Regions from separate parts of the Homo sapiens genome. Here region 2 is linked to region 1. Evidence: fine-mapped expression QTL. A gene starts in region 1. The other region holds a variant in brackets. All regions are shown on one strand. Distances are between the middles of the regions.

The links. PIP is the estimated chance that this variant, and not a neighbour inherited with it, causes the effect. A credible set is the group of variants that fine-mapping cannot tell apart.
Region 2: its variant is the best candidate, but not a certain one, in a credible set for the expression of ZNF19 in aorta (GTEx, PIP 0.90).

Annotation. Positions count from the first base shown.
Region 1 is chr16:71,486,260-71,491,644 of GRCh38, reverse strand. ZNF19 (zinc finger protein 19) reads left to right here and starts at 2,321. Exons shown (of 6, transcript NM_006961.4): 1 at 2,321-2,373.
Region 2 is chr16:72,257,952-72,263,336 of GRCh38, reverse strand. No RefSeq gene overlaps it. Among named protein-coding and RNA genes, the nearest start is that of PMFBP1, 88 kb to the right of the region's middle. The variant C/G (reference allele first, on the strand shown) is at 2,613.

The DNA.
Region 1 (5,385 bases):
GCAAATCCAGCCTGGGCAACATGGAGAGACCCCTACTCTAAAGAAAAAAAAAACTAAATAAAAATGAAACAATCAATTAATTAGAAATGTAGCGAATGTTTACAATAAGTTAGATATGAAAATAAATGATTTTCACATGTTGTTTAATCCTCTCAACAGCCTACAAAGTAGGTATTAATATTGTACCCATTTTATAGGTGAGAAAATTGAAGGCACAGAGAATCTAGGTAACTTGCCCCAAATCACAGTTAATAAATGGAGGCTTGGAAACATTAGTTTGGCTTAACATATTTCAACTTCTTCACTATGAGACACAGAACTACGTATCTGAGGCAGTGATAGAGTGCTTATGTGTGTATACTGAGGCCAAACTATCATGGTTTGAATTCTGGCTCTGCCACATAAGAGCTGTGCATGACTTTGAGCACGTTATTTAATCTTTCTGTGTTCAGTTTCCTCATCTGTAAAATGGGACTCGTGTCATCTTATATGGTTCTTTGGCCCTTATTTCAGAATTTGATGATTTTTCCTCTTACAGTTACTGTTGCTCTTCTCTCTCTCTCTTCCTGAAGGGACTGAGGTCAGAAAGCTTGTGTCCACGGTGTGAGAGCATAGAAAGGCGTATTGGGACTTGGAATACCACTTAGTATATTGTTCTGGAAAGCCAGTTTGACATGGTGGAAATAATCTAGGGTTTAAATCTTAACTCTGATACCTATTATATGCTGTGGCCTTACTGAAACTCTTTGAGTCTTGGTTTTCTCTTACTCATGATTCATTCTGCGTTGAGTGCTTGTATTATCTGTCCCACTCTCCCTTATAGTAAGGGAGTATAATCATATATGTCCAACTCTTTATTCATCAAAAAATGATTATTGATCATGAACTGTGTTATAAACACTATTCTAGAAACTCAGGATACAGTCATGGACAAGATAGAAAAGCCTCTTTCTTGAGGAGTTTACACTCTGCAGAAAGCCTGAGGGTTGCTCTTGAAGACCTGGATCATGGTCCCATTTGTCTGGACTTGTGTTGCTGAAGTCCCAACTGAACAGCAAGTCCAACTAGTCATCCTGGAAGTCCTCAGCTCATGATGAGCTAGCTATTTTAGCACTCTGATCTTCTAAGAACCAACCCTGAACTGCCACCAGGCTTTGCTTATACTATCTAGTCTGGTAGTAAAAAGTGTACAGATGCCCAAACCCACTGAGGTTTATAACCATTTTCAAAGGTTTTAATAAAAAGATTGAATACTGGATTAACTCCAGAGCCTATTCAGGCTCAATTCCTAAGCTATTAATAATCGCTAATATCTAGTGAGTGTAATAATTACTAATATCTAGTGAGTGTTTAGTATGTGCTAGACATTGTACTGATTTACATGTACTAACATCTAATCCTCACAACAATCCGGGGAATAAATACTATTATTATCCTAGTTTTAGAAATAAATGTGACACTTACAGGTTAAGTAATGCACCAAAGGTCACAGAGTGGTCCTTTGGCCTTTGAAACAAAGCATCCTGATGCCAGGCTGTGCTCCTTACCACTATGTCATACTGTTGTAAAGGAGATGGGACTAAGAAGCTCTAAGTCCCCAGTTTGTTTTGTAATTCTGTGACAGTGATCACAAACGTTTTGACAGTCCAGCAAAATCCTGGCCAGAGTTCTCTTTTGTGGACCCAGAAAGCCACAGGCACTAACACTTTAGAGCTATCTCTCTTAGCCCATATGCCCTGCGCTTTTGGCATTTTCTTTATCATTTAGAGGGGAAGGAGGGCAAGGGTCTGAGGAGCCTTGAATGGTGACTTGGACTCCAGGGGTAGTGGCAAACCATTGGAGGTTACAGTGCATGGAATTAAAGACAGCTTGAATGGTATAATCTGACTGGCTCATTTTACAGAAGACAAAAGCTGCTCAGAGACACAAGGGTCTTCCTCAATGGCCCGTGAGTGGCAGAGCTTGTGAAAGGAAGTTGATTCACTGCGAGTGAACCAGAACTCAGAAAGACCAGTAAGCAACCAGGAAACACCGGCCACCATCTAGGCCTGTGGTGATGGCGGTTTTATCACGAATTCCTTCCTGACAATCAACTGCTCCCGGGCAGAAGCGATCGCTTTCTTGACCCACCCAAATGGACAATGACCCAGGCGTGAGGTTCCTGAGGAGAGAAAAAAGTGTGTACAAGGAAAGGAAGAGGATGTCTCCCAATCGGAAACACCGAGATGCGGAAAAGTTGCACCGTAGAAAGAGCAGCCGTGCTCATGACGCACTTCTGGCCTCCAAGCGCCCCACAAGCGTGACGCACTTCCGGCCTCCTAACCGTTCTCGCTAGCGGTGCGCTTCTGGCCTGTTTTGAGTCCGCGCTCAAAGGTGCCAAAGTGCAAGGACCCACAGTTGGGCGGAGCTTGGGTTGGGAGTGAGACAGCATAGCAGTCCAGGCTGGTCCTTTGAGCGCAGCTCAAAGAAGGGGACGGGGAGGGCGTCACTATACAATTGTGGCCGGGTGGGACCTGGGCTGTTTGCTCTTGGAGGCTGTACAGCTGCAAGCTTTGCCGCTCACGAACTGGAGCTGGAGAAAGAGCCCCCCAAGGATGGGAGGATGACAGAAGTGTCTGCAGATGGCACTGCCTGGGCACCAGGAGAGGCAAGGACTCCAGCTGATTCCTACCTCCTAGGGAAGCCATCCCCACTCTTAGTTGGGGCCGGCTTAAGTCTTTAACCAAGGCTCTTGCAGTTGCAGTGTCTGTTTCTTTTGAAGAGGCAGATTTGGAGACCTGTGTCCAAACAAATGCCATTGTCCCATAGTGTTTTTATGTTTTTGTTAGTTTGTTTTGGTTTTTTTGAGACGAAGTCTCGCTCTTGTCACCCAGGCTGGAGTGCAATGGCACCATCTCTACTCACTGCAACCTCCGCCTCCCGAGTTCAAGTGATTCTCCTGCCTCAGCCTCCCGAGTAGCTGGGATTACAGGTGCCTGCCACCACACCCGGCTAATTTTTGTATTTTTAGTAGAGACGGGGTTTCACCATGTTGGTCAGACGGGTCTCAAACTCCTGACCTCAGGCGATCCGCCTGTCTCGGCCTCCCAAAGTGCTGGGATTACAGGCGTGAGCCACTGTGACCAGTCTGAACTCACTTTTAATTTTAGGAGCTTGTTTTGTAGATTCTTTGGGACTTCTTATACAGATAATCATGTTGCCTGCAGATAGTAACAGTTTTGTTCTGAGTTTCGAATCTGTGTGTCTTTCATTTCATTTCTTTTTCTTTTTCTTTTTTTTTTTTTTTTGAGATAGTCTCGTTCTGTCACCCAGGCTGGAGTGCAGTGGCATATTCTCAGCTTACTGCATCCTCCACCTCCCGGGTTCAAGCAATTCTCATGTCTCAGCCTCCTGAGTAGCTGGGATTACAGGCACACACCACCACACCTGGCTCATTTTTATATTTTTAGTAGAGATGCGATTTCTCCATGTTGGCCAGGCTGGTCTTGAACTCCTGGCCTCAAGCAATCCATCCACCTTGGCCTCCCAAAGTGCTGGGATTACAGGTGTGAGCCACTGTGTCTGACCTATGTGCCTTTTATTTCTTTTTCTGGCCTTGCTCTTGCTAAGACTCCCAATATGATGTTAAATAGTAGTGGTAAGAGCAGACATACCTGCCATGTTCCCAATCTTGGAGGGAAAGACATTCTGTCTTTCATCATTAAGTATGTTTGCAGCTGCAAGGAGAGAATAATATTGAATTATATGTCAGTATAGATACTGCAGCACAATATTTAGCTTAACTACATATTTTTTTGCAGCCAAGGCAAAAATGACTTTGTGCATGAAACTTAAGTTCCACCACAGCCTCAGCCTATTTGTGGCTGGGATTTTCAGACATATGGGAGAGAAGTTAGTATTTTCAAGTCAGGATTAAGTAACAGTAAATATGCCATGATCATACACCATACTCTGGGTATCATGATCTGATATTACTTATAGCTTCAGTTAAAGATACTGTAGGAGTTAGAGGGAGAGCTGGATAGTTAGGCTGTGAGGTGACCAGAAAGAAAGGTGGTTCCCATTGGAATCTAAGGAATGGTCAAAGCTTGAAAGTAATTATGTTTGATGGTAGAGATTGTGACAGACATGAGTATGAGTATTGTATTAGTCCGTTGTCACAGTGCTATACAGATATACCTGAGACTGGGTAATTTATGGAGAAAAGAGGTTTAATTGGCTAACAGTTCCACAGGCTGTACAGGAGGCATGGCTGGGGAGGCCTCAGGATACTTACAATCATGGTGGAAAGCAAAGGGGAAGCAGGCACAATCTTCACATGGCCAGCAGGAGAGAGACAGCAAAGGAGGAAGCGCAACACACTTCGAAACAACCAGATCACATGAGAACTCACTATCACGAGAACAGCAAGGGGGAAATCCGCCCCCATGATCCAATCACCTTCCACCATGTTCCTCCCCCAACACTGAAGATCATAATTCAACATGAGATTTGCCTGGGGACACAGAGCCAAAACATATCAAGTATACATTTCCTTAGAGGTGATACATTGGCTGGGAAGACAGGTCAGTGTGAATTAGCTATTATTATTAATGATCTTGAAAACTCTCTGGGAGACTTTCCAGACAAATGAGAGTGGAAATTTTCTTCCTTTCCACTCCCTGCAAAACAAAAATAAGTTATTCCCAACTCTTTTTGTTTTTAATTTTAGTGTTCCCATCTTCTGGCCAAGAATATACTCAACTCTTCACCAAGTAAACATACGGGTTCCCATGTTTCTAAAAACCGATAAAATTAACAATAGAGACTTGTTTTTGTTTTATATCCAGACTTAATGGTCATTTATGTAATGTAAATATCCAGAATAGGCAAATCTATAAAGAAAGTGGTTGTCTAGAATTGGGGGAAGAAGAGAGGTATGTACATGTGTGTCTATTAATTTTCTATTGCTGCTGTAACAAATTGCCATGAGTAGTGGCGTAAAACAACACTAATTTATCTTAGAGTTTTGGAGGTCAGAAATCCAAAATGGGTCCCACTGGTATAAATTCAGGATTTAGACTAAGGAGAGAATCTGTTTCCTTGCCTTTTTCATCTTCTGGAGGCCACCCACTTTCCTTGACCCTTGGCCCCTTCCTCCATCTTCAAAGCCAGTGAGGTTGGGCCAAGTCCTTCTTGTGCTGTCATTTTTGTGATTCTCTTTCAATTCCCTCTTTCACGTTCAAGAACTCTTATGATTACACTGGGCCCACCTGAATAATCCAAGATAATCATCTTTTTTTTTTTGACAGGGTCTCGCTTTGTTGCCCAGGCTGGAGTGCAGTGGCTCAATCAAGGCTCACTGCAGCCTTGACCTCCCAGGCTCAAGTGATCCTCCCAACTCAG
Region 2 (5,385 bases), 770 kb before region 1:
AAGAGCACAGGTTCTGAAGCAAATCTGTCTGGGGTCAAATCTCAGTTCTACCACTTACTAGATCCTTCTCTGGAGGACAAAGATGATAATAGTAAGCGCCCCTGCTTGTAGGGTTCCAAGCATTAACTCCATGCCTGAGACATGATAAATGTTAGCCACTATTGAAATCATATTAGAGGACGAGCTTACCAAGGAAGGAAGAGAGAAAGAGTAAAATGCCCATCAGGCAGCTCAGATGTGTATTTGGAACTGTTTGTAATATAAATTGTAGTTGAAATCACTATGAATGCATAAACTCACTGCAAGACTGAGTTCAGAGGAAGGAAAAACAGAGGATCCAGGACAGACAGAGGAGACAATAGAAAAGCAGTCAAGGAAATAATAAGAGAATTCTGTGGACCAGCATATTAAAACCTCAGAGAATAATAAAGCCATACAAAACAGTGGTCACTTGACAGGATATTGAAGCCCTGGATGAATGTCTTCTGTTCAGTTTGCTGAGCTGATTTTCTGCTTACTCTGGCCTAGGCATTACCATCATTTTTGCACGTTGCAGCATTTAAAATAGTATCATTAGAGTAAGAGCCAAATCCCAATGTATAAGTGCCTGTCATCAGTGACCATTAGTGATACATTTTTAAAATCATCCATAGGGAGTTGAGTGTACATCTTTAAATCTTCCGAGGAAGCTGATATGGCAACAACAAGAGCACAACACTTTCTTATAGGGTACCAGAGCCACGTTGCTAGTACCAATTTCCCTGCTTCTCACTGGAGCCTAAAAACAATAAGGAGAAGGAGTTCAGGAAATGAAGACATTACCAACAGCCACAAAACAGCCAGAATTGCTGCAAAAGGTCTGGCGTTAGCCCTATAACAGCTTTGGCTGAGGCTGTACATCTATATGACATGTGGTTATTGTGCCTGACGTTTGGCATGAACAGTGGAGTGCTGGCCTGAGAGTAGAGATAAGGAAAGGAGATGAGGAAGAGAGAGATGGGTGCACAGATTTGCTGTAGGGTTTTGTGTGTTCAATTTCCAACACTGCTTAAAGAATAGGTGTGCAGAACTCCACTTGGTGGTAGCTTAGAGAATGTGCCTTTCTGTGTTTCTCCTTTCATTAAAACCAGTAAGGTTGAAGTTGAAGTATGGAGGCCACTGGGGTTGGGGAAGGGGCTGTGATCTGACCAAGGGAATCAAAGAAGCTGGCTCTTGTGGGTCTTGAGGTAGTGTGTCATAGAAAGGCAGAGCCATTTCATTTATTTTTCTTAAATGCCTTACAGTTCTTAGTCTCTATACATCACATGAGCCAACATTGAAGAATTTGAAGAAAAGCCCTGTGGTTGATCAGTTTCTCTTATAACTAAAGTAACCATGTAACTTCTCCTTCAGACTTTTTATTGAAAGAGCATACAATGAATACTTTTCCTGGGACAACAGGCATAAACTGGACCATCCCAGAATGATTAGAATATGTAATCATTGGCTGGGTGCAGTGGCTCACGCCTGTAACCCCAGTATTTCGGTAGGCCAAGGCGGGTGGATCACCTGAGGTCAGGAGTTCGAGACCAGCCTGGCCAACATTGCGAAACCCCATATCTACTAAAAATACAAAAAATTAGCCACGTGTGGTGGCATACGCCTGTAATCCCAGCTACTCAGAAGGCTGAGGCAGGAGAATCACTTGAACCCAGGAGACAGAGGTTGCAGTGAGCCCAGATCACGCCATTTCTCTCACCTGGGTGACAGAGCAAGACTCCATCTCAAAAAAAAAAAAAGAAGAATATGTAATCATCCTACTTATAACCCATTTCAAAACTTTTTAGTTCATATAGTATAGTGATTAAGAGAACAGACCCTGGAACCAGACTTACTAAAACCCCAGCTATGCTGGCAACTAGCTATGTGACCTTGACAAGTCACTTAACTTCCCTGAAGTTCAGTAATATCATTAGCAAAATAATTGTTCCTACTTTTGAAGGTTATAGTACTAAGTTAATATGGTTAATATGTGGACAGGCACTTACAGCAATTCCTGGTAGATAGTGCAAGCTGAGTGTGTACTGTTCTTGTTATTTCACACACTGAAGAGTAAGCAACCTAATCTTACAGACCTGATGCGCAGCCTTCCTTTCCCATGCCATGGCATGGAGGGGCATTTGGCAAATTATTTATATGCTGAATGAATAAATTAAAAGAAAGAAGGAAGAAAGGAACATGATTTTTATCCTTTACCTACAATTTTTTCTTTATTCTTTATTCTTTCGCTACTTTTAGGCTACTTTGAAGGACAAGGAATTGACATTCACCCAAGAAGCCTTTCAAATGCCTGTTCTAACCTAGCCTTTACTATGCCCTGGGATCCCTTGTATTATGAGCTTCCTCTGGAAGGAAGAGAGATGGATTTGGATTAAGGAGAAAATTAGGCCTAAAACCAACACTGGACTCTCTTCATCATCTGCTTTTCCACCTGCATGCTTCTCCTAAGCTGGCAGACCTTGTTGTAGAAAGTTATGTCTTGTCAATTAAAATTAAATATGTCAATTAGCACTATTGCTACCACCTCAATTAGGCCTGTTAGCAATTCTTTTATTTACTCTCAATCATATTCC[C/G]CAAAGATATCATCTTTCCCATCCCTCAAGCTTGCAGCCCACTCACCCATACATCTCTCTCCCAAGTTGACCTGCTTTCTGCTTTATTGAGATGAGACTTTCTAAGATGAACTTCAATTTCCCCCTTCCACATCCAAGTGATTTACAACCCCTCCTATTATTTCCTTGCCTGTGCCAGAAAGGAAACTGCCCCATCTGCAAACTCCAAAGCTAATTTGCTCCTTAGTCGAAATCCATCTCTTTTCCTTCCAGAGCCCTGTTCCATCAGTTATTCCATTCTGTTTTGTTTTTTACAAGTCTCCCAAATTTCTGGTTTCTTCTCTTTTACATATTAATATACTTAAATATTTTTCTACCATAAAATGACAAGAACAACAAAAAGCTCATCTTTCTCCTTCTTTTCATTACCAAACCTGCCAAAAGAATAATCCATGAATATTAGCCTCTCTCACTCTTAATCATTTCTAAACCCTTTTAAAGTGACCTCTCATACCATTAATTTGAAACTGTCCTCTCCTAAATTACTATTGACATTCTAATCCCTATATCTGATGACTTCTCCTGAGTCCTTGTCCTCCTCAATCTCTCTGCAGCATTTTCTGTCATTGATCACCCTCTCCTTCATAAAACACATCCTTGGCTTCTTTGACTTGGATTGATCTTGGCTACCCTCTTGGAACTCTAATTTATATTTGCCTCATCCTTCTATCACCCTCTAAATGGAGGTGCTCCCCCAGTGTTCAACTCTTCCATTTATGATCACTCAACTCTTGTGATGATTGCAACCATTTCCAGGCCATTGACTATGTCCTCAGTGCAGCTGGCTCCCAGATCTATATTTCTATCCCAACAAATACTGCAAGTTCACATTTCCAGCATTCTGCTGGACATAAACATTTACTAAAAACTAGACTTTTCTCCTCAACACATTCTTCCAAACCAACTCTACCCCCTGGGTTTCCTGTTTCCCATCTCCCAGACTCAAAAATTATTTTTGTGCCTTCTTCACCTAATTAGTCTCCAGGTTCTATCAACTCTACCTCCACCCCTGTCAAATCTAACACTTACTTTCCGTGAGCACTGCCACTGTCCAGCATGTCACCTCTCGTCTCAAATTTCACTGCAACCTGCTACCTGCTCCCATTTCTTCCAATCTATTCTTCCAGCATGTCCTGAATCTTCCATGACTCTCTCTCCTAATAGTGCTTTATATGCTACAGATAAAAGCCCCAAATGCCACCATCTGGGCTCCTTTTTTTCCCAGACGTAATCTCTATAATTGGTCTTTACACATACTGCTCTCCAGCCAATCCAAACTTCACCTTTCAGAATAAGTCCCACACTTCCTACCTCTAGGCCTCATCTTTTTCCCTCTCGCATTAGTTTCCTAAGGCTGCCATAACAAAGCACTACAAATTGGGTGCTTTCAAGCAACAGAAATGTAGCCTTGCCCAGTTCTGGAGGCTGGAAGTCCAAAATCAAGGTGTCAGCAGAGCCATCTTCTCTTTGAAGGCCCTAGGGGAAGAACCCTTCCTTGCCTCTTCTAACTTCTGGTGTTGCTGCAGCCCTAGGTGCTCCTTGGCTTGTGGATACATCACTCCAGTCTCTGCCTCTATCTTGTCATGGCCTTCTCTCCTGGATATTTGTGTCCAAATTTCCCTTTTTTTATAAAGACGCCAGCTCTAATCCAGATGAGTTCATCTTAACTTGATTATATCTGCAAACGCAATTCCCAAAGGAGGTCACACTCTGTATGCACTGAATGTTTGTGTCCTCATCAAAATTTTTAGATTGAAATTCTAACCCCCAGTGCAATAGTATTAGGAAGTGGAGCTTTGGGGAGGTAATTAGATCATGAGAGTAGAGCCCTCATGATGGAATTAGTGTCCTCATCAAAGACACCCCAGAGAGCTCCTTGTCCTCTTTCCGCTTGTGAGGATATGAGAAGATGGTAGTCTGCAACTCAGAAGAATGCCCTCACCAGAACTTGATTATGCTGGTATCCTGATCTTGGACTTCCAGCCTCTAGAATTGTGAGAAATAAATTTCTGATGTTTATAAGCCACTCCGGCCATGGTATCATCTTATAAGTGCACTTACAGAGTGTGACTAAGACACACTTACAGATTCTGGTGGTTAGAACTTCAACGTATCTTTCTGGGGGACACAATTCAACCCATAACACTTCTCTGCAGAGACTTCTCCCTTCATCCAGTTCCATAGGTTAAAATCCTTCCACTGCTCCAGAGTTTGGTTGATTTTGACCTCTCCCAAGAAGTTGCTTATAATCCTCTGAGATAACACAGTATTTTGCCCCTTTTATAGCATAGCTATTTCTATATATCTTCTTTGTGCTGCTAAATTCTAAACCCTTCCAGACATAGGACACATATATCACTCATCTTTGTATTCCCTCCCCCACCCCATGCCTAGCAGAGTGCCTTTTACTCATGAACTTACCTGGTTAAATCAAATTAAAATAAATTTCCTTTTAGATATGAAATTTTGAGCATTCCTATATTTTTGTCACTTAAAGTAATTTTTCACTTTCATCATTAAATCTAAATGTTGGCCAGGCCCAAATAATTTCAATCTGGACTTACTTTTCATTGAAATGTTTCAACATTAAAAACATATCTCTTTCTCCTTTTTTTGAAACTCTATAAATTGGTTTCTATAGGTCATTTTTCTATGCATCGATTTCTTCCTTGGATTATTTTGAAGTTAATATTGCAGGTGCCCTGAATTCTGTTGGAATCTAATCATCTAGCAT